3 linked regions of the Homo sapiens genome follow. The protein of the gene in region 2 interacts with the protein of the main gene of each other region in a biochemical or structural test. Each region holds a gene or a part of one and is shown on either strand. Other genes may lie near its edges.

Evidence for each region. The genes of interacting proteins can lie anywhere in the genome.
Region 1: of the proteins of PARP1 (region 2) and PIAS4, one has a biochemical effect on the other in vitro, tested with the Homo sapiens proteins (3 studies listed by BioGRID and IntAct, with this or other methods).
Region 3: the proteins of PARP1 (region 2) and RNF4 form a complex in vitro, tested with the Homo sapiens proteins (2 studies listed by BioGRID and IntAct, with this or other methods).

The regions. Positions count from the first base shown.
Region 1 is NC_000019.10:4,010,736-4,017,735, forward strand, and holds part of PIAS4 (E3 SUMO-protein ligase PIAS4), read left to right. Parts: intron 1-2,187; coding exon 2,188-2,614; intron 2,615-7,000.
Region 2 is NC_000001.11:226,362,821-226,370,338, reverse strand, and holds part of PARP1 (poly [ADP-ribose] polymerase 1), read left to right. Parts: intron 1-2,017; coding exon 2,018-2,140; intron 2,141-2,730; coding exon 2,731-2,859; intron 2,860-4,286; coding exon 4,287-4,385; intron 4,386-5,184; coding exon 5,185-5,337; intron 5,338-6,268; coding exon 6,269-6,396; intron 6,397-7,178; coding exon 7,179-7,240; intron 7,241-7,518. UniProt on the Homo sapiens protein: Poly-ADP-ribosyltransferase that mediates poly-ADP-ribosylation of proteins and plays a key role in DNA repair.
Region 3 is NC_000004.12:2,507,106-2,514,105, forward strand, and holds part of RNF4 (E3 ubiquitin-protein ligase RNF4), read left to right. Parts: intron 1-4,850; coding exon 4,851-4,860; intron 4,861-5,332; coding exon 5,333-5,492; intron 5,493-5,977; coding exon 5,978-6,026; intron 6,027-6,564; coding exon 6,565-6,714; 3' UTR 6,715-7,000. UniProt on the Homo sapiens protein: E3 ubiquitin-protein ligase which binds polysumoylated chains covalently attached to proteins and mediates 'Lys-6'-, 'Lys-11'-, 'Lys-48'- and 'Lys-63'-linked polyubiquitination of those substrates and their subsequent targeting to the proteasome for degradation.

The sequences.
Region 1 (7,000 bases), on a different chromosome or scaffold from region 2:
TACACGATGGGTGTCCTCATTGTGAAATTAGCGACACAGGCCTTGCTGGTGCCTGGTAGGGAGCAAGACGCTGGCATCCCGATTCTTTACAGTCACGGGGCCCCGCAGCCCTGATATGGGAAGAGGCTTCTCCCGAGGCTCTTTGGGCAGGGCTGGGCCGCCTGCACGTGTGTCCCTGTCATTTTGAGCCTGGACAGCCTCTCCGTCTCCAACAGGACCCTGGCCCGATACAGCTGGAAGAAATCAGAGCTGACAGATGAGGACCCGACAGTGGGCCCCGGCTGCTGCAGCTTTGGTGCTGAAATGTGCGGCTAGGCTCCTGGTCTCACCCTGGGGCAGCCAGGAGCCGGAAACCTCAGCGCCTCCTGGCACGGAGGCTGCAGTTTACATACCCCACTGGGACTGCCTCTGGCTTCGACCCTCAGGGTCTTTCGAGTGGAGTTTGAATGGTTTATTGGTTTCTTCGGGTACCCGCCAGCTTTCCTTAACACCCTTGACGCTTGAGCTTTCTCCCCATTCCTCCTGGAAGCTACTGTTTCCCACCACATCTCATTCATCCCAGGCCAGCTTCAGGGCTAAGGGTGGGTGGCCCTGAAACCCTGCCAGCCCATCCCTCGAGGACACCTGGCTTCTGCAGCCTGTTGAGGAGCCTTCCTTCCCCTTCAGGGTCCTACCCCTCATGGAGGTCAGGCCACTGCCAGTCTACCCCACCTCAAACACCAGGGTCAGCTGGGCTCTGCTGTTTGGTTTTTATTTCGCTGGAGAGGCCCGGCCAGGCGATGAGGGCCAGGTCCTGCCAAGCCTCATTTGTCGCTTTGACCCAGGTCCTGCAACAGCCCCTGTGGCTGCTATCTTCCCCTTGGACCGGTCCCCCAGGGACTCAGGGCAACGTGTGGAGGTGTGTTTGGTGTGGAGGTGTGTTTGGTGTGGAGGTGTGGGGGGTGTGGAGGTGTGTGGGGTGTGGAGGTGTGTGGGGTGTGGAGGTGTGTGGGGTGTGGAGGTGTGTGGGGTGTGGAGGTGTGTGGGGTGTGGAGGTGTGTGGGGTGTGGAGGTGTGTGGGGTGTGGAGGTGTGTGGGGTGTGGAGGTGTGTGGGGTGTGGAGGTGTGTGGGGTGTGGAGGTGTGTTTGGTGTGGAGCTGTGGGGTGTGGAGGTGTGGGGGGTGTGGAGGTGTGTGGGGTGTGGAGGTGTGTGGGGTGTGGAGGTGTGTGGGGTGTGGAGGTGTGTGGGGTGTGGAGGTGTGTGGGGTGTGGAGGTGTGTGGGGTGTGGAGGTGTGTGGGGTGTGGAGGTGTGTGGGGTGTGGAGGTGTGTGGGGTGTGGAGGTGTGTGGGGTGTGGAGGTGTGTTTGGTTGTCGTGAGCTGTGGGTATTTAGCACCACACAGAGCCCAGGATGGCCCCAGTGTCCACAGGGCCAAGGAGGAGAAACCCTGCCTGGGATGATCAGCAGATGTTTCGGAGGCCCCCACAGGCCCAGCCCTGTGTTGACATCCAGAGGGTAGTGTGGCAGCAAGAACCGCCCCTGGCTTCAGAGCCAGGCCTGGGTTCGAATCTTGGCGCTGCCACCTCTGAGCCGACAGTTCCTCATTTGTGACAGAGCTCACACACCAGCCTAGCAGGGGTGTTTTAAGGATCAGAGTTAAATATATAATCACATGACCGGCTTGGTTCCCGGCAGGTGATTAGTACTAAGTAAACTGTGGCTACCGTTGGCGAGACCGAAGGGAAAACATATCTGTGGCTGACATGGGTTGAGCGCCCGCCCAGCCAGTGCTTTATGTCATTATCCTCCCGACGTAGAGACTGAGGGTCAGAGAGGCATTTGGTGTTTGCCGGTAAGGCACTGGCAGAGGCTGTTTACAAGTAAAGCACAATTGTCAGTTCCTGCCCTGGGGATGCTTTCAGGCTGAAGACAGGGAAAGAGAACCTAAAATAGAAGGGGGGGCCTAGTCAGAGGCGCTTTTGCTGCGTTGGCGATGCTGGGGAAAGTTTGATGAGGAGGAGGGAGGGGGCAGGGCTTTGCTGGGAGGGGGCACCGTAGGGGCAGGGCACTCCACCAGCCCCAGCCAAGGCTGGCGCTTCCTGGCGAGTGGGTGTCTTTCACGGCCCCCACATCGGGGCCTGGCCTCCATGGAGTCCCCTGCCTCGCAGCTGTGTCCTCTGAGTGTGTGTGTGCTTGCTCCTCCTCAGAACATGGTGATGAGTTTTCGAGTCTCCGACCTTCAGATGCTCCTGGGTTTCGTGGGCCGGAGTAAGAGTGGACTGAAGCACGAGCTCGTCACCAGGGCCCTCCAGCTGGTGCAGTTTGACTGTAGCCCTGAGCTGTTCAAGAAGATCAAGGAGCTGTACGAGACCCGCTACGCCAAGAAGAACTCGGAGCCTGCCCCACAGCCGCACCGGCCCCTGGACCCCCTGACCATGCACTCCACCTACGACCGGGCCGGCGCTGTGCCCAGGACTCCGCTGGCAGGCCCCAATATTGACTACCCCGTGCTCTACGGAAAGTACTTAAACGGACTGGGACGGTTGCCCGCCAAGACCCTCAAGCCAGAAGTCCGCCTGGTGAAGCTGCCGTTCTTTAATATGCTGGATGAGCTGCTGAAGCCCACCGAATTAGGTGAGTGGTCACCCTGGGGAGGCTGCGACTGGAGGCTTCACCTAGGCCCCGTCGCCCAGCCCAGCCCAGCCACACAGCCGACTTCGAGTGATGTTCTCTGTGGCGCAGCCAGGGCGGGGAGCCACAGTGGCCAGGGGTGTCCTTCCTCGGAAGCAAAGGGACCATCTTTGATATTGGTCACCCCTTGCTGTGTTACAAGTTACCCCGAAATGGAGCCACTGGAAGCAGGGGGCGTCTGTTAGCTCTCAGGAACCTGTGAGCTGTGTTGCGGGGCATTGGGGCTTGGGGGCTCTCATGAGGCTCAGTCAGGCTGGAGCCACCTCATCTGGAGGCTCGACCAGGGCTGGAGCAGGCACATCCTTGTGTGGTGGCTGGCAGGCCTCAGCTCCTCGCCAGCTCTTGGCCACAGTCCCCAGGTCCTCATGGTGCGGACTCCTGCACGGATTGCCTGGGCGTCCTCAGCCTGGTGGCTCCCTCACCCTAGGGTAGCGAGTGTGCACCTCCAAGCTGGGAGCTGGAGCCCTTTTTATAACCCAACCTCGGACACGCCTCGCCATCTCCCCCACAGAGTCCGTTGCTCACACAGACTCTGTGGCGCATGCAGGGACCACACCAGGCTGTGACTGCCAGGGCCAGGGGTGACCAGGGCCACCTGGGAGCCTGGTTTCCCTGCTTATTCCCCTTGGAAAGGGGGCTGGCCAGTGGCATCCTTCCCCCGGGCTCTGGTTCCTCGCTGGCAGCCTGCAGGAGTGTCCTTGGTCAGTGGGCTCAGGTCACTGCCAGGCTGTGTGCACCGGGCGTGCTGGGGGTTCAGGGCGATCCCAGGCGGAGGAGAGGTGCTGGGCTCCACGCTTCTCTCTCTCGTGTCTTTGTCTGCAAGCACTGACTGAGCAGGAACTGTGTGTCAGGACCTCATAGCCCACAGCAGTGTGGACAGGCCCCTGGTGCCTCCCCAGCAGCCGTGGCCATTCAGGCTGCAGGTGGGCATTGAGCCCAGTCTCTGCCTCAGCCATAGCCCTGAGCTCAGGGCCAGGGAGGCCTCCGCAGCCCCAGCCCCCAGGGCAGAGAGAGTGTGCAGCCTCTGGGACTCCCAGATAGGGAGCGGAACGTCCTGGGCCTTTGCGGACCTGTGCCTTGAGGCGCTCAGATTTCACCAAGTCCTCTGTGTGCCTGGAGGTCTCTCCGTCTCTTCTTCCTGCCTCCCCTCCCCTGCCCCCACTCTTTCCTTCGCACAGTAAACATCGGAGCGCCTGCTGGGTGGGTGCGTGATGGGCACCAGGCGTGGGCACGCAGCAGGGAACAGGACCAAGGCCACGAGGTTCAGAACCCTGTGCATGCCCCCTCCCACCCTGCTGACCCAGCAACCTGCCTGGCCCCTGCTGTGGCCTGAGGGCCCTTCTCTGGCACGCTTCAGTCCATTGGGTGCCAGCTGGCCCCCGCTCCCCTGCCCAGGGAGGCAGCGTTGATGGGGGTAGGGGGAAGGGGAACTGGCTGCTTTTCCCCTCCCATCTGCAGCCCTGGGACTTAGTGAGGTTAGGCTGGAGGGGCTGTGCTTCCAGGTGAGGATGGAGGAAGTGGAGGAGGGAGGAAGGTGCTGTCGGTGGTTCCTGCGGCAGCCGAGGCTCCTCCCTCCAGCCTGAGGCTCCGCCTTCCAAGTGAGGCTCCGCCTCCACCTTTTTTCTCTTGCAGGAGGTGTCTAGCAGCAGCCTCCTGGGGAGCAGGTTGGCCCAGTGGCACCTGTCCTGGGGGACTCAGGGTCTTGGCCTGAGTTCCATCGGACTGACTTTCCCAGCCTTTGCTCTCTCATGAGGGAAGCTGTTCCCCCTGCCAGGTTCTTGGGCAGAGCTGGCTGTCTCTGAAGGTTGGGCCTTGGGAAGGACCTGCATCACAGGGAGGCTGGGCTTTCCTGGGAGCGGCAGGGCAGGCTTGGTCCAGGGCGGGGGACGGGGCTGACCAGCTTCCTTCCTGCACGGGGACCAGTAGCTCCGTCCCACAATACATCGCTGTGCCCTGAGCCACCAGGGACCCCGGTCACCTGATCTCCGGGAGAGCCTGCTCCCCTGTCTACACCAGTGTGCCTGTGCTGGCGGCTCAGAACAAAGAGGCCATCCCCACCCTGCCTCTCTCTCCCACTGGCTCTCTCTCCATCTCAGGCCGCCAGGTGAACCTCCTTTCCTGGATTCCGTGCTCTTGGGGGACTCCCTGGGGGCCACCTCGGTCCTCAGAAGTTTCCTGGAGCATAGCCCCTGGCCCCGAAGCAGTGGTCCCCATGGTTTTAGGACCTGAGATGCCATCTGTCCGCCCTGACCCTGGGCTGTGTCCCTCCCCAGGGTGCACTCTGTGGTGCTGGCCTTGCCCGGGGGCCGCCTCCGGAGGACCCAGTTCCACCGGCTTCTCCCTCACTCCCTCCTCTGGCTGTGACCCACCGTCCAGCGTGAGGCCCACCGCTCTGGTCTGTTTCCCCGGAATAGCCGCCGGCCGGCTCCAGGATGGAGACCGCGCCAGGCGGACAGGAGCCATAAATCACGCGGTGCGGAATGCTGGGCTGGGGGAGGGGGTGACAGAGCCACAGAGCAGGCTGCAGGGGCCTCAGGCTGTAGGTGATCGGCTCCAGTGGGAGGTGCCGTGTGTGGGGACGGGGCTGGCACCCAGAACAGTGCGGAGAACGGCCCAAGGTCGCACAGCGGCCTGCCTTCCCTCCTCCCGAGCCGACTGGCTCCTGCTCCTGAGCAGAGGCTCTGGCCTGGACCTCTGCAGGCTGGGAACCCTGTCCTGCCTGTCGGCAAGGAAGCCGGCGCCACCCCTTTCCAGCCTGCGCCACCTGGGGAGTCCGGCTAGGGAGCCTGACCCTCCTGTCAGGGTACTTGGGAAGAGAGGCTGTCAGGAAATGTGGGGCAGAAGGAAGGATACATGCTGGCCGGGCACAGAGCTGCTCCTCCAGGGTCTTGGCCCGCAGCGGGCACCCCGAGGAATCTGCCTGCCCACCCGCCTGCTGTGCAGAGTGGAGCCCCTGTCACCACGACTCCAGATGCCCCCAGAGGCAGATAGCCCTGGTACCAGCCAAGAGCCGCCGGTCTGGCATGTGCTGTGCTGTGTGTAGGCACCTGTGCCCTTCAGCCTCTGAAGCCCTTGGGCCAGCATTGCCCAGGCCACAGCAAGGTAGCGTGGTCCCTGCTCAGGTGCAGCACAGAAGTGCCAGGTGATAAGTCTCATGGCACACGGAGGGCTTTCAGGGGCAGCTGTCAGTAGCAGGAGCCATTTACTCTACATTTGTGAGGAGGTAGCAGTCAGGAAGGCCTCCTGGAGGCAGCAGCGTTTCAGTCCAGACCCGAGGGTGACTCTCAAGAAGCCAGGCAGAGAGGAGGGGGCAGGGGAGCGTATTCCAGGCAGAGGGCAGTGAGGGCAGAGGCCGATGGCCAGAGAGGGCTCATTCATGGGGCTGAATGGAGTTCATTGTGGCCAGAACATGGTGCGCCCAGGAGGAGGGACGCAGTAGCCTGGGCGCGGGCGGCAGAGGCTGGAACCCGAGAATGGTGGGCCCGGGGAAGGCTGGGGGCTACCCTGCTTGCCCCGAGGGCTTCAGCGCCCCTGAGGTTCTGGTATGATTTTTGGGGTCAGTGAGGAAACTGAAGTGCAGGAGGCAAGTGGCCGTCTGCCTTCCACAGCCAGGCCTGCTGCCCGCCCAGGCCCACCATCTGTCCGTCTGCACACTGGGGGCCTGGATGGGCACGGAGCGTCCTGTGTCACTGTCCCACATGTGGGGTAGTCTGACCCACTCAGCCCGCTGGCACTTCCCATACCTGTGGTTGGGGAACAGGGGGACTCCGCCAGCTCTGCCCCAGGTCTTGGCCTTCAGGTTGAAGAGGAGGGATGGGCCCACTGCTACCAGATGGGGGGCTGCCAGCAGCCACCCCCATGTCCCGCTAGTCCTTCTCCCATCCCCTGTGGCCCCCTGCCCTGCCCAGCCCAGCTCCCCAACCTGCCCGCTGGCTGCAGCCTCCTGCTCTGCTTCCTGCCCACTGGTCCCCCTCCCATGGCAGCCTGTGAATGTTTTCACTGATGGGTAGAGTGGTCGGCATCACCCCTGTGCCTAGCCAGGGGCACCTGTTCCCCGCCCCTCCAGGACAGTGCCCCCTGTGTCCCTCATACCTGACTGTGCTGCCTCTACTCTTGATCTGGGGGACCTGGGTTGGGGAATCAGTGCTGGTAGCTCTTAGCTGGACAGGGTGGGTCCGGGAGTTAGAGAACTTGTATGTGCCGGGGAGGGGACAGCCTGGGGAGGGGGCCAGCACATGGGCCAGCTGGAGGGGGAATGGTCCCATCCGATCAGCTTTTTTTTTTTTTTTTTTTGAGATGGAGTCTGACTGTCGCCCGTGCTGGAGTGCA
Region 2 (7,518 bases):
TAAGAAACTGGAAGTACTGAACTGCACTTCACGAGGGTTTCGATTTTTTTCAGTTCAATAAATGACAAGTGCCTGCTACTTACAAAAGTTTATCACAAAACTAATGAAGAGCAACATTTTTCAGTTGTCAGATACTTAGTAAACTGACCATAAACTTGAAGACGTTGGTTACCCTCTCTGTTAAAAGTGAAGTCATCCCTCTGTATCCTCGGGGATTGGTTCCAGGACTCCCTCGGGGTTACTAAAATTCACTCATGCTCAAGTCCTAGAGTGCCCTGCAGAACCCATGGAGGAGAAAAGTTGGCCCTGCACATCTGTGGGTCTCGCATCCTGAGATTTTTTTTTTTTTTTTTTGGTGGGATTTTTCTTTCTTTTTCTTTTTTGAGACAGAGTCTTGCTCTGTCCCCCAGGCTGGAGTGCAGTGTCACAATCTCAGCTCACTGCAACCTCCATCCCCAGGTTCAAGCGGTTCTCGTGCCTCAGACTCCCAAGTAGCTGGGGTTGCAAGCATGGGCCACCACACCCGGCTAATTTTTTTGTATTTTTAGTAGAGGTGGGGTTTCACTATGTTGGCCAGACTGGTCTCAAACTCCTGGGTTCAAGTGATCCGCCTGCCTCAGCCTCCCAAAGTGCTGGGATTACAGGCATGAGCCACCACACCTGGCCTGAGAATACTATATTTTTTATCTGAGTTTGGTTGAATTCTCAACTGCAGAGCCCACAGGTGTAGAGAGCTAACTGTATTTATTGAAAACATCTGTGTATAAGTGGACCCGCATACTTCAAATCGATTGTTCAAGGGTCACCTGTGTTGTGGTTTTTATTTTATGTGTCCTTAAGAGTTAGGCAGAGTTTATTTTGCAGTTACTAGGAAGTCATCAAATGGAAGCCTCTTTCATTCATGTTATTTCAACATTCTTTGAGCATCTTTCAAGGTCTACCAGTCCCGGAGCCTTCCAGCTACATCCTGGAGGGGCTGGAGGGTTCCGCTTATATTTGTGGGTGGGTGCAGGCCTGGCCTGTAGAAAGAAGGAAAGCACACAGGAAGCAGAAGTGGGCCCAGGCAGCGGGCTTTCTGGCTGGTGCTGGAGAAAAGGCGCTGAACCGGATCTGTCAACTTCAGTTACAGCTGGCTCTGAGCAGTGAACCTCTCTCCTTGTTCCTTACTGACTGAGAACTTACAAGGCTTTCCTCGGCCCCAGCTTCTTCCCATGCAATAGTCTTCAGGAAGAAGAGCTGGAATAGCATCCTTACCCATTGCCAGAGCCACCTGGGCAGCACAGATGGAAGTTGTACAACTTGGTGAAGTCCATGTCACAGCGAGAAGCAGGCGTGGGGCTTCGGACCTGCTGGGTGCCACTTCATATTCCCTTGACCTTCCTGTGGTCACCTAGGCTGTCTGCGAAATTCCTGGAATCCCAGTGGCCCCGCTCTTCCATCTCTGTGCATTTTTTGTGCACCCTTTGCATATAGAGCACCAAGTGACACTGGCAGTGAGTGTAAGGATTGCTTAGCCTTTCTGTGCCTGGCCACCTCAACCTCCAGGTACAGTAAAAACTAATTCCAATGAAGGTCAGTGGAGGCAGGGAGCCTGACTGAATTTTATAGCGATGGGCAACCTCCTCCCAACATTTTATTATGAAAATGTTTCAAACATACAAAAAGTTGAAGGAATTTTACAGCAATAGTCATTAGCCCACCACCTAGATTTTACAGTTAACATTTTGCATAGTTGTGGCGGGGTTTCAAATGTCTGTAACTGCACAGTTCTTTGTACAAATGAAACTTCATGGGAGAAGCCCATCACGTGTTGAGCAGTGCTTTTAGAGGATGGGGGTCCTGCCCTGCTCTTTAACAGGAAGATGGTCTTCTGGTCGTTTCCCATGTGTCCTGGCATGTGCACATACCACGCTACTTCTGGACCTGCTGCAGCACCCACCTGCTAAAAGAGAAAGCCTGGCCGGGGGCTTGGAGCTGCTCCCTCAGTCTTGCATTCCTTCTGTCCCCTCCTCTCCAGGCGGTGTCTCAGGGCAGCAGCGACTCTCAGATCCTGGATCTCTCAAATCGCTTTTACACCCTGATCCCCCACGACTTTGGGATGAAGAAGCCTCCGCTCCTGAACAATGCAGACAGTGTGCAGGTAGCGCAAGGGTTCAGAAGGGACTGCAGGTCTGCTGGGCTGGGGTGTGACTACCTTGCAGCCGTCCCTCCCCATCATGATCCCTGAGGGCAGCACCAATGCTGGGAGGGCCACCCTCTTGCCCTTGTTTTGAAGTTGGGTTTCTACCCACATTGATGGAGGCAGAGCTGTTTTTCCTGCCCCTGTTCTACCAAATCCACTGGGGAAAGAGCTGTTGGAGAGGGACAGCCTCTCCCTCATAACAGCATCTTCCTCCCCATTTTCCCTCCCTGCCTTTTAAGACAGCTCCTGGCTCAGGACCCATTTGTCTAAAGTACCTTCACTGTAGGTCCCAAATGTCAGCATGTACGAGAGGAAAGACAGTTCTTCCACCTCTCAACTCCCCCAGGCCACAAGGCCTTGTTAACATTCCAGAAAGTCCTTATGAGCTCTCAATATGTGCAGCAGGTAACAGGCTGGCCCTGACCAGCAGGAGGGTTTGCCATTCACTGTGTTGGACCTTCTCTGCATGTAGGTTTTCTCTGCCACCTGGGTGAGTCTGTCTCATTCACCATGATACCTAAGTCGGGGGCTTTCTTTTGCTCCTCCAGGCCAAGGTGGAAATGCTTGACAACCTGCTGGACATCGAGGTGGCCTACAGTCTGCTCAGGGGAGGGTCTGATGATAGCAGCAAGGATCCCATCGATGTCAACTATGAGAAGCTCAAAACTGACATTAAGGTAACAGGGTCAGGCCTTCCTCAAGCATCTTAACCTCTCATCCTGAGAGCAGCGGTCCCAAACTTCCATGTGTGTTAGGATCTCCTGGAAAGCTTGTTAAAACACAGGTGGCTGGCGCCCAATAATTCACTTTTCTAACAAGTTCCCGGACATTGCTGCTGGTGGTCCTTTGAGAACCTTTGGGCGTTTCACGTGTAGATAATGCACCTTGTTTGCAAGGCAGCCTTCCAAGCCAGCACCTCAGCTTGGCGTACAAATTTATTTTTGAGGGTCTTACCAAAAGTTCTTTTTTGTTTGTTTGTTTGTTTGTTTCCTCTCCTTAATCTAGAGAGGAGCTCTGTTTTTCTAAACCCTTGTAGCGTGAACTTTTAGAAGACTTATTACCGGTGTCCATTTCAGAAGTGGAAATGCTTGATGGCACCTGTAATAAAAACACAATGCTTGCGTTCATTTTTCTCTGGTGCTGAAGTGGACTGTGTTGGCACACACAGTCTCTGAACACCCCGCTTAGACCAACTAGAGGAGGGATTTTTGCCTCAGCTTCTAGATGGCCCGGTCCTTGAGCCTATCTCCACACTCATGTGCCCCATTGTCCTCAGCCCATTCCCTGCAGTGTTGCAGGGGTTTGGGTGGGCGAGAGTATGTTGAGTCTGGTACCAGGTGTTTACATCGCTAAAGAAAGAGCCTTGGCTTCTTTCCTAGGACAAAGTATAGACCTATGGGTCCAAGCAGGGTAAGACACCACATGTCATTTGTTTTGCCCCTAGAGCACCTTCCTGATGGGAAAACTGTAGGTGTGGTTCTTCGTGAAGGGATTCTTATTCTCTTTTTACAATTCTGAAGCCTTTTAATTAAAAGACAGGGAGGTAGACCAGCATTCTAGGTTTTCTGAAGTTTGAATATAAATATGAAAATAAAACATAACTAGTCTCCTCCGTAATACTCAGGCTTACTGAGCATAGATTACATCAGCTATTTGACAGATGCTTGTTAGGCCTGTGCTCTGAGCCAGGGATAATTTTCATTGCACATCATAGCTGTGACTTCCTCTGGCCCATTGTGTTTTAACTCATGCTGAGCTGGACTCTCTTCCAGGAGCCAATTGCTTGTTCTGGAGATGCCCTGTTCACTGACAGTGAATCCCACATTCTAGCTTCCCTGATATCCCAAAACATAGAATTTTAAGACAAAAAGGAACCCTGAGATTCTCTAGCAGCCCAAGTAGATGAAGAGGTGGAGGCTTAGGTAAGTGGAGCCACTGGCCCAGGATCTGCCCAGCCCACAGGCCTGGGACACAGGCTCTCGGTCATGCCCGGCTTCCTTTGAGGAGTGTGGTGTTGAGCTATGCATTGACTGAGCCTGAGCATTCCTCCTCTGTAGCTCTCCTGGGTCTCTTTTGTGCTAATCCCAAGATTCTGTTTATCCAGGTGGTTGACAGAGATTCTGAAGAAGCCGAGATCATCAGGAAGTATGTTAAGAACACTCATGCAACCACACACAATGCGTATGACTTGGAAGTCATCGATGTAAGAATCCCTTCTTCCCCCACTTCCTTCTGTGTCCTGCCAGCTCTTCCCTGCCCACTCCTCCAACCTGGGCCTGGGTAGAAAAGAGCAGTTTATTTACTTTAAATAACCCAAAGAAGTGACTCATTTGTTCAGCAGAAAAATTAGTAGTTTTTTTTTTGTTTGTTTGTTTTTTGTTTTTTTTTTTGACATGGAGTCTCACTCTATCACCCAGGCTGGAGTGCAGTGGTGCAATCCCGGCCTGCTGCAGCCTCTGCCTCCTGGGTTCAAGTGATTCTCCTGTCTCAGCCTCCAGAGTAGCTGGGATTACAGGCGTGAGCCACCACACTCTGCTAATTTTTGTATTTTTAGTAGAGATAGGGATTCACTATGTTGGCCAGGCTGGTCTTGAACTCCTGACCTCAGATGATCCGCCTGCGTTGGCCTCCCAAAGTGCTGGGATTATAAAATTAGCAGTCTTATACAGTAGTTTGGGGATGGCTTTTTATTCTGTTTTAAAGGACATTTCCTGTCCCCAAACCTGGTCTCAGAACATAGATTATCAGATGTCCAAGATAAAGTTCCTCAAGTGCACATCTGCTGCACAGTAATACTAACCAGCAATGGCTGGGCGCTGCTGGGCAGGACCTGGACCTTCCATCCCAGCCTTGTGGAAAACACTTTTTACATTGCAGCAGACCTTAAGTCTTCTAGCCTTAGGGACAGCCGGTCATTTCTCGTGTATCCAGTCCTGTCTTTCAGTCAACCAGAGTAACAAATGGCTTCTTTTGTCCTTCCCTTTGTTTACTACTCCAACCAGATCTTTAAGATAGAGCGTGAAGGCGAATGCCAGCGTTACAAGCCCTTTAAGCAGCTTCATAACCGAAGATTGCTGTGGCACGGGTCCAGGACCACCAACTTTGCTGGGATCCTGTCCCAGGGTCTTCGGATAGCCCCGCCTGAAGCGCCCGTGGTATGTGCCTGGCCTGGCGAGGGGTGGGCAATGCCTGTCTCTGCAGGTGTCTCCATAAAGAACTTTGAGCAAGAGGTCTAGTTGGTTTAGGGGGATTCTGCCAGACATCCTTTCTTTGGGCCTTCACCCTTTTATCCTCCTGACCCTAACCCTGTCAGGGGTTTCAAACACAGTTTCTGGAACAAAGGAGGCAGAGCATCCAGGCCAGGGCCTGCTGCAGATGCTAATCGGGTGTGTTGACAAGCAAAGAACAGACACGTGGCTACAGGCCAAGCTGAGTCCAGGCTTATCTCTACCACTTCCCAGCCGGGCCACCTCTGAGTGTCAGTGTCTTCAGCAGGAAAACGTAGCGATGAATGAGTAAGGCTTTACCTAGACACGAGGGATCGTGATGCCACCTGCTGGATTCTAGATGGGTCCACCTGGACAGGACCTTCTAAGCCTCTTGTTTCACAGTTGTAGAATGAGGAGGAGAGAAGTTTAAATGATTCTCTCTGGGGCTGTGCAGTAGTGTATAACGGGCAAATGGCCTACCCTTTGTGAACCTCGTGTTTCATTTACAAAAGGGAATAAAAATACCAGCCTGCATTCCTTGGGTGTTGACAGGCGCTAGTTTAAGTAACACTGATGAGCTCATTCCGTCCTCATGGCAGCTCCATGAGACTGTGTTCCCCATTTGAGAAAAGAGGCAAGTAGAGTCCAGAGAGGTTACGTAGCTTCTTGCAGCTCCTTGGCACCTGGCAGAGCTAGGATCTGACAGCCTGGCTTGTGAGCTAAAACTTTGGTATTTCCTCACCATGGGCATTGTGAGAATTAGAAGTGATGGATTGCAGCACTTAGCTGGGTGGCTTGCTCAAGTTGGCACTCAGTGAACAGCTGCTCCTAATTTCCCATCAGAAGATTCTCAGCTCTCCCTTTTCCGACCTTCCAGACAGGCTACATGTTTGGTAAAGGGATCTATTTCGCTGACATGGTCTCCAAGAGTGCCAACTACTGCCATACGTCTCAGGGAGACCCAATAGGCTTAATCCTGTTGGGAGAAGTTGCCCTTGGAAACATGTGAGTAAACCTGGCTCTGGGACTGATGGCATTTCATGGGGACAGGTGGAATGGGCTATAGGCAGAACTCCCCTTGGCTGGGAGAGTAGAAATTCCCCACTGCAGTTACTGGACGCACCAATTAGGATTCTTTTCTTATAAGTAGCAGAATCCAATTCAAGTTAAGGGAACAAGGGAGATACAAGGATACTTCAGGAAATGCAAGGGCAGGAACGCAGCCAGGCCTCCAGAGCTGGCAGTGTCTTCTCTCCATGGACTGGGAAGCAGAGAGATTGAGTTGCACAAAGGATGATCCCCCAGGCCGCCTCCTCCACTCACCAGTGTTTCAGTTTTCTTAGACCAACCCAAATGGAACTGGAATTTTAATTCCACTTCCAGATTCTCCATAGAGAAAGATCTGATTAGTCCAGCTTGATTTGGACATCGACCCTAGTCCTGTGAACTGTAACCAAAAGCACAAGGTCATGTAAAAGGCCAGGGGTCTGGGGACTGTGGAATGTGGACGGAAACCTAGAGCTGCTGACCACCACTCCAAATAGGGCCTTGCCTTGAAAATGGCCCCATAGCAGTGATCGCTGGGCACAAACTATGTTCAGCCGCAACTGCAGTTTCAGGTTCTGGAACAGTTCCAGAAACTCAGGAGGGAGCCTGAGCAGTTTAGATGGTCTGGGTTTTGTGGACTTTTATCTCATCTCTGTATCTGATCTTATTCTCCTAATCAAACTGTTGGTTTCGAGAGCCCAGTGTGAAGGCCTCTTCTGAGACTGTCCTCTTTTGAATAGGTATGAACTGAAGCACGCTTCACATATCAGCAAGTTACCCAAGGGCAAGCACAGTGTCAAAGGTAAAGTGTTTCCAAAGCTGTTGCTACAGCCCGAGGCACCCTGGACAGCACAGAAGCCGGGGGCTTGCTGTCCTGAGAAGGCTGCCTTGTGGCTGGCTGTCAAACAGCTGGAGATTCATTTTATCTTTTCGAGGGGTGTGTGTGCGTTGTTGTTGTTGTTTGGGGGGTGGTGGTGGTGGTTAATATGCTGCAACTGACCATGATTGGAGGTTCATTTTATTTATTTTTGTAAAAAAAAAAAAAAAATAGGCAAGCTCTATAGCAGGAGGTTCATTTTT
Region 3 (7,000 bases), on a different chromosome or scaffold from region 2:
ACTATGTGTGTTTTATTCTGTATCCTGCCTGGTTTTCCATTTATGAGACTCTGTAGAAAGGATGCTTGATAAAGGCTTTTCTGGAAGGAAGGAAGGAAGAGGGAGGGAGGGAGGGAAGGAGGGAGGGACAGAACCCTGTAGATCTCTGGGTGTAAAGGACACAGGAGGCACACTGTTGGAATAAGTGAGCCAGCCCAATTCCATAGAAAGAAAGAAGAGCTCAGAAAAGCCCAAACATCATATCCAGGAATTAGCCAAGATGGGTTGGCTACTCAACTACAATGTGATTGTCCGCACCAGTCTTCCCGACTTTCCTGCCAGTGCCGCAAGTAACAGGCATCAGTAACTGCATGATGTGTGTAGCTGTTGGACATTGAGTAGCCTTTTGTGTGCACAGTGCTTGGAGATGGCTGTTTTTCCAGTGGAGCAATGTGCAGTGCTGTGAGCTGTAAAGTTGTCTAAAGCAAGTGTGTCTTGGTGCCCTTGGCTGGGTGAACATTCCTAGAAATGCCAGGGGCCAGCCTGAGTGCACGGGACCCAGTGATTCCTATACTTGCTTCTTTCATGCAGAGGTGTTCTGAGGCTCACCTGTGCTTTTAGAAGCACAAAGGGGCTTCGAGTGACCAATCAGATGTGCCTGCTGCAGGTCCACTCGTCTCTAAATGCTCTGACCTATGGACTGTTGTCCATAGTTGAGAAGAAGCTAGAGTAAAATAAAATGTATGAGTGAGTGAATCTTTTTCTTTTTTTTTTTCTTTTCTCTTTTTGAGACAGGGTGTTGCTCTGTTGCCCAGGCTGGAAGGCAGGGGCCCGAGCTCAGCTCACTGTAGCCTCAACCTCCCAGGTTGAAGAGATCCTCCTGCCTCAGCCCCAGGAGTACTGGGACTACAGGTACACACTGCCATGCCCAGCTTATTCTTTGTATTGACGGGATCTCGCCGTGTTGCCCAGGATGGTCTCGACCTCCTGAGCTCAAGTGATTCATCCCGCCTTGGCCTCCCAGGGTGCTGGGATTGCAGATATGGGACACCATGCCCAGCCGAGGAAGTGTGAATTTCTGATCTTGGGCTAGCTTACCACAGTACTAATTAAACTATTCAGTTCAGGGGATTAGTTAATTGTTGTTATTTCAGTTTTGGTTTTTCACTTATCTTAAAAGCCTCTCAAATAGATTAGAGGCCCCAGAGCTTGTGTTACACCTCTATCCATCTCTCAACTCATCTGGTAGGCATTTATGAAGCGCTGGTACTCTTCCCTCTGCACCTATCTTCTGTGCTGGGCAAGTACTGTGCCACCTGCAGGGCCATAGCTGTGATTTAGGTTCATTACAGAGTTCTTGAGATGTCTGCAGGGATTCTGGAATTTGATGTGACTCGGCCACTGGGTGGAGGGAACACCAGTAATCAATACTGTATTGTCCACCAGCTGAGAGGCCAGGCTGTGGTCGTTGGTTTTGTTTTTTTGTTTGTTTGGTTTTTGTTTTGTTTTGTTTTGTTTTTTGTTTTTGTTTTGTTTTGTTTTTGAGACGGAATTTCACTCTTGTTGCCCAGGCTGGAGTGCAGTGGTGCAATCTCGGCTCACCACAACCTCCACCTCCCAGGTTCAAGTGAGTCTCCTGCCTCAGCCTCCTGAGTAGCTGGGATTACAGACATGAGCCACCACATGCCCGGCTAATTTTGTGTTTTTAGTAGAGGCGGGGTTTCTCCATGTTGGTCAGGCTGGTCTCAAACTCCCGACCTCGGGTGATCTGCCCGCCTCTGCCTCCCAGAGTGCTGGGATTACAGGCATGATCCACTGCCCCAGGCCTTTTTTTTTTTTTTTTTTTTTTTTTAATTAAAGACAGTTTCACTATTGTCGCCTAGGCTGGAGTACAATGGATCTCAGCTCACTGCAGCCTCCACCTCCCGGGCTCAAGTGATTCTCCTGCCTCAGCATCCCAAGTAGCTGGGATTACAGGTGCCCACCACCACACCCGGCTAATTTTTGTAGTTTTAGTAGAGACAGGGTTTCACCATGTTGGCCAGGCTGGTCTCAAACTCCCGACCTCAGGTTTTCTGCCCGCCTCTGCCTCCCAAAATGCTGGGATTGCAGGCATGAGCCACCGGGCCTGTGCTTTTCTTTTTTTCTTTTTGAGACAGTTTCGCTATTGTTGTCTAGGCTGGAGTGCAATGGCGTGACCTCGGCTCACTGCCCCCTCCACCTCCTGGGTTCAAGTGATTCTCCTGCTTCAGCCTCCCAAGTAGTTGGGACTACAGCCACGCGCCACCACACCCAGCTAATTTTTGTAGTTTTAGTAGAGACAGGGTTTCACCATGTTGGTCAGGCTGGTCTCGAACTCCTGACCTCGAGTGATCCGCCCATCTCGGCCTCCCAAAGTGCTGAGATTCCAGGTGTGAGCCACCGCGCCCAGCCTGTGGTGTTGTTCTTATACTGAAGACTCATCTGGAAGCTGTTTTTCTCTCATTAAAAGCGGGGACAGTCAGAATTGTTACCAGTGAGGAAACACTCTGGCGACCCTGTTCTTATGCACCCCAGTAGTTGTGTGTGTATCACCTGCTGCTTGCCAGCAGCCCCTGGGCTCAGTGCTCAGGACAGGCCTCAGTTTGGTACCATCCACAGGCAAGCTGGGTATGACTCACAAGAGACCATAAAGACTCAGTACGCGCACTGTCATGGCTGGGGCACTGGGAGTGTCATACCCTTTCCAGGTGTCCACACCTAATTAGTGGGTCATCTTGGCAGAGGGTGGGGGCATGTTGGAGCTGTAGAAAGCTGGGGTCATTTCTAGCCACAGAAGAATTTGCTTTTGCTCCCAGCTAAACCCAAGGCTTTCCCCAAGGGCCAGCACTGTTACCAGAGCCTCCTTTTCTAGATTTCATGCGGACAGTACATTGTGCCGGCCCTGGTAAGTTTGGTCCTGATGGTGAGGTTGACTGATTGTCCCCAGATTTCCCTTTTCACCGTCTGCAGTCTCCTCTAAGAGGAAAGGGGAGCACGTTTCAGTGGCTCCACGTATGTGGATTATATTCTCATCCTCAAATCAAAGACCTTTATACTCAGTCCTGCATTCTTCCTGCATGGCCGTTTGTGTATGTCAGGATGCCATTTGGGAAACAAAATCCACTCTAATTATTCCTAAGCTTAGTGGATTTTAACATGGAAGGAGAAGCCTAAATCAGCAGTGTCTGGGCTGGGTCTCCAGGAATAACTCTTGACCTCGAAGCATTGACCCACCTAGGGAGCTGCTGTGTCTGCTCCATGAAGAAGGTCTGGAGGCGGCATCCACCCCCTGCACTCATATCTTTGGGTTCGTGTAGACAGTACTGCAGACCCTTTCTAGGGAGGAGAGGCCTGGGCTCAAGACATAGCAGCCTCTGCCAGAAGTGTTTCTTCAGGATGCAGCTGTGCCTGCCAGTGCCAACACCCTCAGCAGCTCAAATCGGCCTCCATCCCCTGCCCTGCCAGTAGCATGAGTGTGTCTGTTTGAGGGAACTCGGTTCACGTCTAGGATCCTGGCTGCACGGGAGTCAGAGTAGAGGATTAGAGCTTCTTGTCACTGTAGGGCAGGATGTCCTGCCCAGGGGACAGGCAGGGTGAGGTGAGCAGTAGGGCTTTGGTGGTGAGAACTTTCCTGAAACAGCCCCTCCTACGTGCTCAGCAAGAGGGAAAGGGCGTTCCACTGGCCCCCCTAGATGGGTAAGAGCACTTGGCCAGAAGGTGGGAGGAACCACGTTTGAAACTGTTGGAGCAGAAATTGTCTAGATGTAAGTTCTGAGCTGGCAGGTGAGAGGCTTGTCAGGTTCTTAGGCCCCCAGGACAGAGAATTGGATTGTGTTCAATCCTTGGTGTGTGTCACACGCATTGGTCATGCATAGCCTGCTTTTCTCTGTTAGTTACTTGTAACAACCTACTGAGCAATGCAAATCCTCCTCCACATGAAGGCTCCACCTTGGCAGTGGCCTACATTGGTCGCGTCAGCTTGAGAGAGCATCATGCCCCTAGTGCTGTCTAAATGTTCACTGCCTCACGTAACCCTCACAACAGCACAGTCAGATGTGGGCTCTGGTGACTCTGCTTCAGAAGAGAAAGCTGCAGCCCCCAGATAGTAAGTAAGGTCCCCAGGTCTTGCAGTCAGCACATGGTGTGGCTGTGGCAGCCCCCAGATAGTAAGGAAGGTCCCCAGGTCTTGCAGTCAGCACATGGTGTGGCTGTGGCAGCCCCCAGATAGTAAGGAAGGTCCCCAGGTCTTGCAGTCAGCACATGGTGTGGCTGTGGCAGCCCCCAGATAGTAAGGAAGGTCCCCAGGTCTTGCAGTCAGCACATGGTGTGGCTGTGGCAGCCCCCAGATAGTAAGGAAGGTCCCCAGGTCTTGCAGTCAGCACATGGTGTGGCTGTGGCAGCCCCCAGATAGTAAGGAAGGTCCCCAGGTCTTGCAGTCAGCACATGGTGTGGCTGTGGCAGCCCCCAGATAGTAAGGAAGGTCCCCAGGTCTTGCAGTCAGCACATGGTGTGGCTGTGGCAGCCCCCAGATAGTAAGGAAGGTCCCCAGGTCTTGCAGTCAGCACATGGTGTGGCTGTGGCTGTGTTCACGCTCCAGGAGACTCCACTAAACACCCAGCAGGGAGAGACACAGCACATCAGCTGGGAGGTGGAGTGACTTGGGAAGTGGGCTTGACTGACTGGGAGAGGTGCACAGATCCTCTGTGGGTGGGAGGAGGGTGGGGCCTCTGCTGCTCACCAGAGGGTTCCACAGAGGGTGTCACACGTCAGAAAAAAGAAATGGCTTCGTTTATCACTTATATCAAACTGATTGCTTCTTTCTCTTTTGTTTTTCTCCTTCTGTTTACAAGATTGTTGACGGTGAGTGGTTTCGTTTCCTTTTTCACTGGGTTTGGAGAGGAAACTGGCATAGGTGAGAGCCGCGGTGCTGCAGGTCTTGCCAGACCATCCCCAAGGGCTTGGAGCGCTCCAAGCAGGAAGATGCCTTCGCAGATGCTGTGGTCAGACCCACACAGCCAGTCCCCCTTGTGCCTGCTGAAGAAACTTCACCACTATCATTGAGCACTGAGCTATAGTCCTTTCTTGTGGCCTACCAGATTTTGGAGAAGGCTGGTAGCTCACAGCAGGGGTTGGGGGGTTTCTCCTGGGAAGATAAGATAGTGGCCTCCAGAGCTGGGCAGAACCTTCTGGGTTATAGCTGAGCATGGCAGCAGTTTGTCTCTGGGGGTCCCAGGCAGGGAAGGAAGAGGGTCTTAAGAGGCGTCAGGATGGGAGTGGTGAGGATGGTAAGAGTAGAGAGCCTCCAACCTGAAAATGTGACCTCTTACCTTAGAAAGAAGAAGACCAAGGAGGAATGCTAGGAGGCTGCCCCAGGACCATGCTGACAGCTGTGTGGTGAGCAGTGACGATGAGGAGTTGTCCAGGGACAGAGACGTATATGTGACTACCCATACTCCCAGAAACGCCAGGGATGAGGGCGCTACAGGCCTCAGGTACCAACGTGCCCCCAGCTCTGCTGCCGCCATGCTAGGATGTGGGGCCAGGGCATGGGAATACTTTTCAGCAAATCTGTGAGCCCTTGGCCCTGGAAGGGCTTGCCCAAGCCTCTACCCAGCATCTGGATACAGTTGGAACTGGGTCCAGAACTGAGTCCAGCTATTCCCACTGTAACCAGAGGATGCCAAGCGCTGACACAGTGTGTGCAGACAGTCCCAGTGGCCCCAGACAGGGATCCTGGGGCTGGTAGGGGCCTGGGGGAGGGCAGGGTGACTCAGGTTGTGTGCACCTTCTCATGTTCACCCTCCCACATGCCCTTGGGGCAGTTGGCTTTCCTGAAAGTCTCTCGGATGCCCGCGCTAAGGCAGAGTCAGGAGGCCAGGGACGGGACTCTTGTAGGGGATAGGGGCCACTCACGTGACAGGGTATAATAAAATGTTTGCGTTGACTGAGAAACTAACGTGAAGCACTGTGCTCTTAGGCCCTCAGGTACTGTCAGTTGTCCCATCTGCATGGACGGATACTCAGAGGTAAGTAAACCAAGCTGTATCTTCCAGGCTTCTGGTTTCTAAACTTCACTGAAAGAATTGGATGAGACAGGATCTTCCCCCTCGGTGGGATTGGACACCCCTACTCACAGTCATGCCTGGGCCGTCACTTATTGCAGATCTGCCTGTGAGGGGAGAATGTGCCAGTTTCTCCTTGGACCCTACAACTTTCACCTTCAGCCCCTATACTCCTGTATGCCCTGAGCTTCCGGGTGCAAATGCGTCCTCCTTTTTTGTGCCCCATCCTGGCTCTAACTGAAAGCTGCTAGTGTTTACTGGGGTCCCTCATAACCCTCTTGGGCTGTCACACTGTTGAGATGCCATGGCCCCTGCCTCCTGCTCTCCAGCTGAGAGAGACCACAGCAGACACAGTTAGCTCTCCAGACCCCTCCCTGTTGTAGCCTGGCCCTTGCTTTCCTTTAATTAGTCATCTTAGGCATAGGTGGGTGGGATTCTCTGGCCCCATGGCTGCTCTGGGACAAGGGCAAACTCGGAGGCTCTTCTTTTTAATGCCTTCTAGATCGTGCAGAATGGACGTCTCATCGTTTCCACAGAATGCGGCCATGTCTTCTGTAGCCAGTGCCTCCGTGATTCCCTGAAGAATGCTAATACTTGCCCAACTTGTAGGAAAAAGATCAACCACAAACGGTACCACCCCATTTATATATGAAGTATTCAGAGCCCCCCAGGAGAGACGGATGGACAGACAGACAGCCAGGTTCTCCAGTGGTATCTGCCTCCATTTTCCTGAGATCAAAAAGACTGTTTCGAAACCAACATCTGATATGTAAACTGCTCTTTTGTTTCCAACCCCTTCCTTTTGTTATCTCCAGTTTGATGCTATGGCGCTGGACCCAGGGCCCTCCCAGGCCATCTCTGTTCCTCTGGGGTGGTCCAGTTCTAGAGTGGGAGAAAGGGAGTCAGGCGCATTGGGAATCGTGGTTCCAGTCTGGTTG